Linked DNA regions of Homo sapiens: region 2 is reported to be linked to region 1. Evidence: microRNA targets listed by miRTarBase, many of them from high-throughput screens and not tested one by one. Region 1 holds a microRNA gene; the other region holds the end of a gene's coding sequence.
Evidence for each region. The annotated mature microRNA hsa-miR-6071 reads UUCUGCUGCCGGCCAAGGC and lies in region 1 at 1,416-1,434, shown strand. An mRNA with a match to its seed (bases 2 to 7 or 8) in the 3' UTR can be bound and repressed. Matches are read on the target gene's strand: a 7mer-m8 pairs with bases 2 to 8, a 7mer-A1 pairs with bases 2 to 7 and ends in A, and an 8mer does both.

Region 2: the mRNA of BPNT1 is a reported target of hsa-miR-6071. Seed matches in the 3' UTR shown: 7mer-A1 at 693-699.

Annotation. Positions count from the first base shown.
Region 1 is chr2:85,780,615-85,785,090 of GRCh38, reverse strand. MIR6071 (microRNA 6071) reads left to right here and starts at 1,414; the gene lies at 1,414-1,491. All of the region lies in intron 2 of ATOH8 (atonal bHLH transcription factor 8), which reads right to left.
Region 2 is chr1:220,055,339-220,059,338 of GRCh38, reverse strand. It overlaps BPNT1 (3'(2'), 5'-bisphosphate nucleotidase 1), which reads left to right. Exons shown (of 9, transcript NM_006085.6): 9 at 347-1,857. The coding sequence ends at 495. Among named protein-coding and RNA genes, the nearest start is that of EPRS1, 11 kb to the right of the region's middle.

The sequences.
Region 1 (4,476 bases):
CTGGGGCCAGCCCCAAGCCGTCTGTTGGCTCTTAGTCCCCGCTGAAGCCACAGCTACCATCCAGGATTAAAGGAGACAGGGGTTTCTCTCACCAAGGCCTGACCTTCAATTCTCGACCTCACCCTTTTCCTGGCGTCTACACTGGACCACCACCACCTCGGTCCAAGAATCTCAGCACATACATCATCCATCCAAGGAAGTCTTATGACAACTGGGATGTAATGGGAAGAACACTAGGAGGCCTCAGGTGCCAGGACTTTCTCTGCAATTCAGCAGCTGTGTGACCTTGGGTAACTCACTCTCCCGCTCTGTGCCTTCATTCCGTCACTTGTACAGTGAGGGGAGGGGAGGCAGATTAGCATTGCCCAAAAGGTGTTCTGTGAACACCAGCTAGGTGAGGCATTCCATGAGTTTGGGAAATACCACATACCTTGGTCCCACTTGGAAAGTCACTGTATGTATTAGCATGTCAAAGGCTCCGAAAAGTCCTGCAGTAAACAAATTTGTGTGGCTTTAATGACCCAGTTTCCCAACTGACTTTTTTTTTTTGAAACAGGGTCTCACTCTGTTATTTAGGCTGAGTGTAGTGGTTGCAATCATGGCTCAGCATAGCCTTGACCTTCTAGGCTCAAGCGATCCTCCAGCCTCAGCCTCCCAAGGAGCTGGGACTACAGGCATGCACCACCATGCCTGGCTAATTTTTTATTTTATTTTTTATAGAGACAAGGCCTCACTATGTTGCCCAGGCTGGTCTTGAAATCCCAGATGCAAGCAATCCCCTCGCCTCAGCCTCCCAAACTTACAGGTGTGAGCCACTGCAGCCAGCCTTCCCAACTGATTTGACCGTGTAATTGCTACTGCATTGTGAGGAGCAGAAACTCACTTCAACCCTCCAGGAAAGGGAAGCTCACTTAAAGTTACAAAAGGGCATTTCACAGAGACCAGGGGGAAGGTCTCAGGATAGGTAGCAAAGGGCTTGCAAAGGTCAGCAGGGGCAGTCTGTGGCCCTGCCCTCTAGACGCCTGCTAATAACAGCCACTTGCAGGTATCCGCCTTCCTCCCTGACTACTGACTGGCCTGGTCTCCCAGCATGCCAATCCCCAAGACCCAGTGGAGGACGCCCATTGGTCTAGCCTAGGTCTGATTTATTCCCCTGGACCAATCAGCTCTGGCCGAGGGATAGAAGACAAAGATGCCAATGATACCTCTTCATAAGTGGCTGTGTGTGGGGGGCGGGGGGTGCATGTGGGGGTGCATAATTGCAAATATGGAGAATAGCAAGCATCCGCGCTGTGACCACCACACCACAGAACCCCTTTCATGGAAAGCCTGGCAACATCCTGTGTCCCATGTGAGGGGCACAGTGCGAGAGGCTTACATTCCCCGCAGCACTGGCCCTTTGTGGGTTTTTGTGTTTCTGCTGCCGGCCAAGGCTCTGGGTCCGGCTTACTCCCTAGCTTACTGTCCTCAGAACCCCCGCCACCACAGAAGATGCCCTTTATTTTATTTATTTATTTTTTTTGAGACGGAGTTTCACTCTTGTTGCCCAGGCTGGAGCGCAATGGCACGATCTCGGCTCACTGCAACCTCCGCCTCCCAGGTTCAAGTGATTCTCCTGCCTCAGCCTCCCGAGTAGCTGGGATTACAGGCGTGCGCCACCACACCCGGCTAATTTTTTGTATTTTTAGTAGAGACGGGGTTTCACCATGGCCAGGCTGGTCTTGAACTTCCAACCTCAGATGATCCACCCTCCTTGGCCTCCCAGAGTGCTGGGATTATAGGCCTGAGCCACCGTGCCCATCCGAAGATGTCCTTTAAACAACAGGTTCTGCTGCTAAGATTAACCTTGAGAATGACTAGATGAGGAGGCCTCACAGGTCCCTCTCAGCTGCTCTGACGTGCTGAATCAGAGCAAGGTGATTTGGTCAGTGTGGCAAAGTGGGAGCATTTATCACAAGCAGAAATCATCTTTTTATCTGTTCACTTGTTTATAGTCAGAATGCCAGCTCCACGAGGGCAGGGACGTGGCCTGTTTTGTTTGCTGTTGTAGCTCCAATGCCCAAAACAGTATCTAACACACAGCAGTATCTCAGTAAATGCTGGGCCAGGCGTCACGCCTGTAATCCCAGCACTTTGGGAGGCCAAAGCAGGAGGATCTGTTGAGGTCAGGAGTTCGAGACCAGTCTGGCCAACATGGCAAAACCCCATCTCTACTAAAAATACAAAAATTAGCTGGGTGTGGTGGCGCATGCTTGTAATCCCAGCTACTTGAGAGGCTGAGGTGGGAGGATCTCTTGAACCCAGGAGGCAAAGGTTGCAGTGAGCTGAGATTATGCCACTGCACTCCAACCTGGGTGTCAGAGGGAGACTCTGGAGACTCTGTCTCAAAACAACAACAACAACAACAACAAATAAATACTGGTTGACTCAATCATAGCTACTTTTGGTCACAGGCATTTTACTCACTGTGGCTTTATATATTGCAAGATGTTTCTCCTACTTCAAATGTAACATTGAGCATTTTTGTAAATGGGTCTATCTATACTTTCAGGGAAGTTGTGGTAATTGTTATGAACCCTGGAACAATTTAGCAACCTTTATGCTTTTGTTCGTTTCCAGTTTAAAAAAAAAAAATTCTAATTGTTTTCCTATCCTGATCACTTCTGTGCACTGCAGGGTAATTTTACCACTTTGGGGCATTTAAAAAAATGATTTTATCTGCCTTTAAGTTATTTTACCTTTTACATTTATTGTCAGTCTATGATGCCCACTTTACCTACTTAACCATTTTCCACTATTTCAAATTATACATTTTTTGTATTTAAGCAATTTTGATACAGCCTTCTACATGCAGGGAGGAATAAACCTCCAATGGGGTTGAAATCCTGACTTTTTTTTTAAATTGGTCTTTCCTAAAAAGGGCAGATTTCAAATGTTATTTTAAAACTAAAAGGTGAAAAAAAGAGCAGATATGGCATGGGAGGAGAGTTTTTCAAAAACCACAGTATTAGTTTGCCTTTCACTGTTAAGTACACCAGTATGTGGGCTAGAAATGGGGCTTCGTGTTTGCCTCTGAATGCTGCTCTTGATTCTTACTGGGGTTCATCTTGGCCCCAGAGTCAGCTGGGGGGCCCTGAGCAGGATACTTAACCTCTCCAAGCCTCAGTTTCCTCATCTTTTTTATTTTTATTTTTATTTATTTTTTATTTTTTTTAGACAGAGTCTTGCTCTGTTGCCCAGGTTGAAATGCAGTGGTGCAAACAAGGCTCACTGCCACCTCAGCCTCCCAAGCTCAGGTGATTCTCCCCAATCAGCCTCCTGTATACCTGGGACCACAGGCTCATGCCACCACACCTGGCTAGTTTTTTTTTATCTTTTGTAGAGACGGAGTCTCACTTTGTTGCCCAGGCTGGTCTCAAACTTAAGGGCTCAAGCGATCCTCCAACCTCAGCCTCCCAAAGTGCTAGGATTACAGATGTGAGCCACCATCCTGGTCAGTTTCCTCATCTTTATTTATTTATTTTTCAGTCAGAGTCTTACTCTGCCACCCAGGCTGGAGTACAGTGGCGTGATCTTGGCTCACGGTAACTTTGCCTCTTGGGTTCAAATGATTCTCCAGTCTCAGCCTCCCGAGTAGCTAGGATTACAAGCGTATGTAATCACACCCGGTTAATTTTTGTATTTTTAGTAGAGACGGGGTTTCACCATGTTGGCCAGGCTAGTCTTGAACTCCTGACCTCAAGTGATCCGCCCACCTCAGCCTCCCAAAGTGCTCTGCCTCAAAAAAAAGAAAAAGAAAATACAGAAGAGTGAACAGAAAGAAAATTGTTTCAATCACCTTAATCTCTCCACGGAGAGCAAACCACTGATAACATTTGGTTAACTATTGTCCCATATGCTATTCCCATGCATATGCGTACTCACATACAGTATTTTACGAAAAGTGGAATTACGCTGTACAAGCTGCATCATAAGCTGCACTGGTGTTTTCTTTAACACTCAAGCCTGGACATCCTTGCGTTTGACAGATCTGCTTTCACATCTTCTCCAAGGGACAGACTTTGCAGAGGTTATTCTGGGCACAGGCGCAAAGCCTGGGCTTCTGGCCTCCAAGCTCCCCAGGGACCTGGAAGCAAGTATGGACCAGTCGGCCTCCAGCACCTCCTGCCTGCCTGGCCTGGGTGCCATGGGTGACAGGCAGGAAATTTATGAGCAGTTGGAATTGGCTGCTATTTGCGGGGGGCGGGAACATGGCATGAATCGAGGATAGTGCTGTGTCCGGGCTTGGAGGGCCCTTCAAGGTCCCGAGTGTCTAAGAGTTTCAGTTATGGCCAGAGCCTTTAGTGAGCCAGGACAGTTGGCCTGGGGACCAAGAATGGGGAGAAAAAGTCATTTATTCAACAAAGATGCATTAGTTCCTAATAGGGGCCAGTCCTGTCCCAGGCACTGCGGCAGCTTACAGTCTAACTCTAGGGG
Region 2 (4,000 bases), not on the chromosome of region 1:
CTTGTAGTGAACCGAGGTTGTAGTAACTGAGATTGTGCCATTGCACTCCAGCCTGGGCAAGACTCCATCTCAAAAAAAAAAAAAAAAAAAAAAAAGAAAAGAAAATGCTAAATAAAATTAATATTAATCAGAGAAAAAATAATTTTATATCCTTTAGTTAGTTAAAATTGTTCTGTAGTCTTAAATTTCAAGTGAATTAAAACTTAACCTTTATGGACACTCATTATTTCATCCAGAATTTATTGGCTACTATTGGATAAGGAAGCAAAAGGCACTTAAAAATAACTAGAAAAACCACAATCCAATTAGCCACTAACTTGATTGATTGATTGATGTTTTTCTATAGGCAAGTTAACCGATATCCATGGGAATGTTCTTCAGTACCACAAGGATGTGAAGCATATGAACTCTGCAGGAGTCCTGGCCACACTGAGGAATTATGACTACTATGCAAGCCGAGTTCCAGAATCTATTAAAAATGCACTTGTTCCTTAAAGGAAAGTTTCATTTGGCCGGGCGCGGTGGCTCATGCCTGTAATCCCAGCACTTTGGGAGGCCGAGGCAGGTGGATCACTTGAGCTCAGGAGTTTGAGACCAGCCTGGGCAATATCGTGAGACCCCATCTCTACAAAAATACAAATTAACTGGGCATCCTGTCATGCGCCTGTCATCCCAGCTACTTGAGAGGCTGAAGCAGAAGAATCTCTTGAGCCCGGAAGGCAGAGGTTGCAGTGAGCTGAGATCGTGCCACTGCACTCCAGCCTGAGTGACAGGAGTTAAGCCCTGTCTCAGAAAAAAAAAAAACAAAAACCCAAAAAGTACTTAAAGTTTCATTTACTTAGCTAGGAGAAAGACTTGGTTCTCAAAATAATACATTTTAAGATTAATTGGGTAGAATTAGAGTTCCACCTTTATTCATTGTTGAGCAGTGATTTATATTTAGTTATTATATTTAGGAATAGAAAATAGAATTAAATAATTTAACTTGATTAATCAACCAGACCAATTTTGACGTCTGGAGAACTTATAAACTCAATATGTTATATTTGTTTTCCTGTATTTAGGTGGAGAAATGAGAAAAAGCTTTAGTTCCAATTGACAGTTCAGGTCAATGTTCAATGAACATTCCTATCTTCTAAACCAGATTTCTCTTTTTTTTTCCTGAGACGGAGTCTCGCTCTGTAGCCTAGGCTAGAATGTAGTGGCGTGATCTCGGCTCACTGCAAGCTCCGCCTCCCGGGTTCATGCCATTCTCCTGCCTCAGCCTCCCGAGTAGCTGGGACTGCAGGCACCGCCACCACGCCTGGCTAATTTTTTGTATTTTTAGTAGAGAAGGTGTTTCACCGTGTTAGCCAGGATGGTCTTGATCTCCTGACATCGTGATCTGTCTGCCTCGGACTCCCAAAGTGCTGGGATTACAGGTGTGAGCCACCGCACCTGGCCTAAACCAGATTTCTTTAGGGCACAATTTTTTCTGGAATCTCACTCTTGTTTTTCACAGTAATTTTAAAAACGTTTCTACTCCAATTAAGAATATATATGATGTTATTATATATGCTTATGAAACAGATTTATGAGAAAAGTTTTTTTTAAATAAATTATTTAATCCTAGCTCTTTGTTATTCACCAGCTTTTTAAAAAAGTGTTTGAAAATTATACATTCTCGACTTTGGGGATTAGTTTATTCTTGTGGCATCATTATAAGGCTTAATTGTGGAAAGCTAAGTACTTGCTTCTATTCCTTCCAATGAGAGATTATAACATAAACTATTAAAATTATTCTGCTAATATACCTAGATTTTTATTTTTAGGTCTCTGTCCATTGCTTTTAATTAAAATTATCTGTTTTCAAATCAACAAGTGGTTTAAATTAACAGTTCCCAAACTCAACTGCATATCAGAATCACCTAGGAAGATTCTTTTAAAATGCAGATTCACAGGCCAGGCGCAGTGGCTCATGCCTGTAATCACAGCACTTTGGGAGGCCGAGGCGGGTGGATCGCCTGAGGTCAGGAGTTCGAGACCAGCCTGGCCAACATGGCGAAACCCTGTCTCTCCTAAAAATACGAAAATTAGCCGGGCATGGTGGTGTGTGCCTGTAATCCCAGCTACCAGGGGGCTGAGGCAGGAGGATCACTTGAACCTGGGAGGCAGAGGTTGCAGTGAGCTGAGATCGTGCCACTGCACTCCAGCCTGGGCAACAAAGCGAGACTCTGTCTCAAACAATAAAAATAAAAATTCACAGGGTTTATCCCAACGATTTTGCTTGTGTGTGTGTGTGTGTGTGTGTGTGTGTGTGTGTGTTTATTTACTTATTTATTTATTTATTTTGAGACAGAGTCACTCTCTGTCACCCAGGCCAGAGTGCAGTGGTGCAATCTCGGCTCACTGCAACCTCCACCTCCCGGGCTCAAGCGATTCTCCTGCCTCAGCCTCCTGAGTAGCTGGGACTACAGGCACATGCCACCACCCCTGGCTAATTTTTTGTATTTTTAGTAGAGACGGGGTTTCGCTGTGTTAGCCAGGATGGTCTCGATCTTCTGACCTCATAATCTGCCCACCTTGGCCTCCCAAAGTCCTGGGATTACAAATGTGAGCCACCACGCTCAGCCTGCTTCTGTATATTTTAAGAAATTCAGGGACTGATAATCATTTAACTCTAGGACTCACTAGATAAGGTAATATAGTATTATTTTATAGAAGTGTCATAATCTAGCAGGAAGAGGTCTCTGTGGTCTTGACACCTTTGAGCCCTCCCTCCTGTAAGTCTCTTCTCATTGTCCTGGCTTTCTTTTTTCACCTAGCCACTCCTACTCAGTCTCCTTTATTGCTTTCTCTTTGTCTTCCTTCCCTTAAATGTCACTGTTTACCAAGATTCTGTTCTAGTCTCTCTCCTTTCTTTTTTTTCTTTTTTTGGTAGAGATGGGGTCTTGCTATACAGCCCAGGCTGGTCTTGAACTCCTAGCCTCAAGCAATCCTCCTGCCTCTGTCTCCCAATGTGCTGGGATTATAGGTGTGAGCCACTGCACCTGGACTATGCTTTCTCTCCTTTCTCACCAGAGGATCTAATCCACCTGTGTGACTTTTGTGGCGCTTTTGCTCATTAATCCAAAATCTTTAGCTTAGAACTCTCAAACTCTAGATCTATATACCCCAAAACCTACCTAGATGCCTTACAGAGATGTCTGAATGATTATGTCTAAACAGTTCTTCACTCTTGCCCCGACCCCTCCAGAAATTATTTTACAAACCCATGAGGTGATCTTGATAATTGGCCAAGTTAGAAAATCATCACCTGAATCCACCTGCTTCCCTCTACGAATGGAGTTCTCTATCTGTAAATAGTGGACTAAACCTAATTTTTAAAAAATCTAAGTGTAACAAGAGAATAACTTTATTTTTATTTATTTATATATTTCTTGAGACGGAGTCTCGCTCTGTCGCCAGGCTGGAGTGCAGGGGCGCAATCTTGGCTCACTGCAGCCTCCGCCTCACGGGTTCAAGCGATTCTCCTGCCTCAGCCTCCTGAGTAGCTGGGATTACAGGCATGTGCCACCACGCCCAGGTAATTTTTGTATTTTTAGTAAAGATGGGGTTTCACCATGTTGGCCAGGCTGGTCTCGAACTCCTGACCTCAGGTGATCCGCCTGCCTTGGCCTCCCAAAGTGTTGGGATTATAGGTGTGAGCCACTGCGCCCAGCCCTAAGATAATAACTTTTTTTTTTTTTTTTTTTTTTTTGAGATGGAGTCTCACTCTGTCACCCAGGCTGGAGTGCAATGGCATGATTTCAGCTCACTACAACCTCTGCCTCCCGGGTTCAAGTGGTTCTCCTGCTTCAGCCTCCCGAGTAGCAGGGGCACACCACCACACCTGGCTAATTTTTTGTATCTTTAGTAGAGACAGGGGTTTCACCATGTTGGCCAGGCTGGTCTTGAACTCCTGACCTCAGGTGATCCACCTTCCTCAGCCTCCCAAAGTGCTGGGATTACAGGTGTGAGC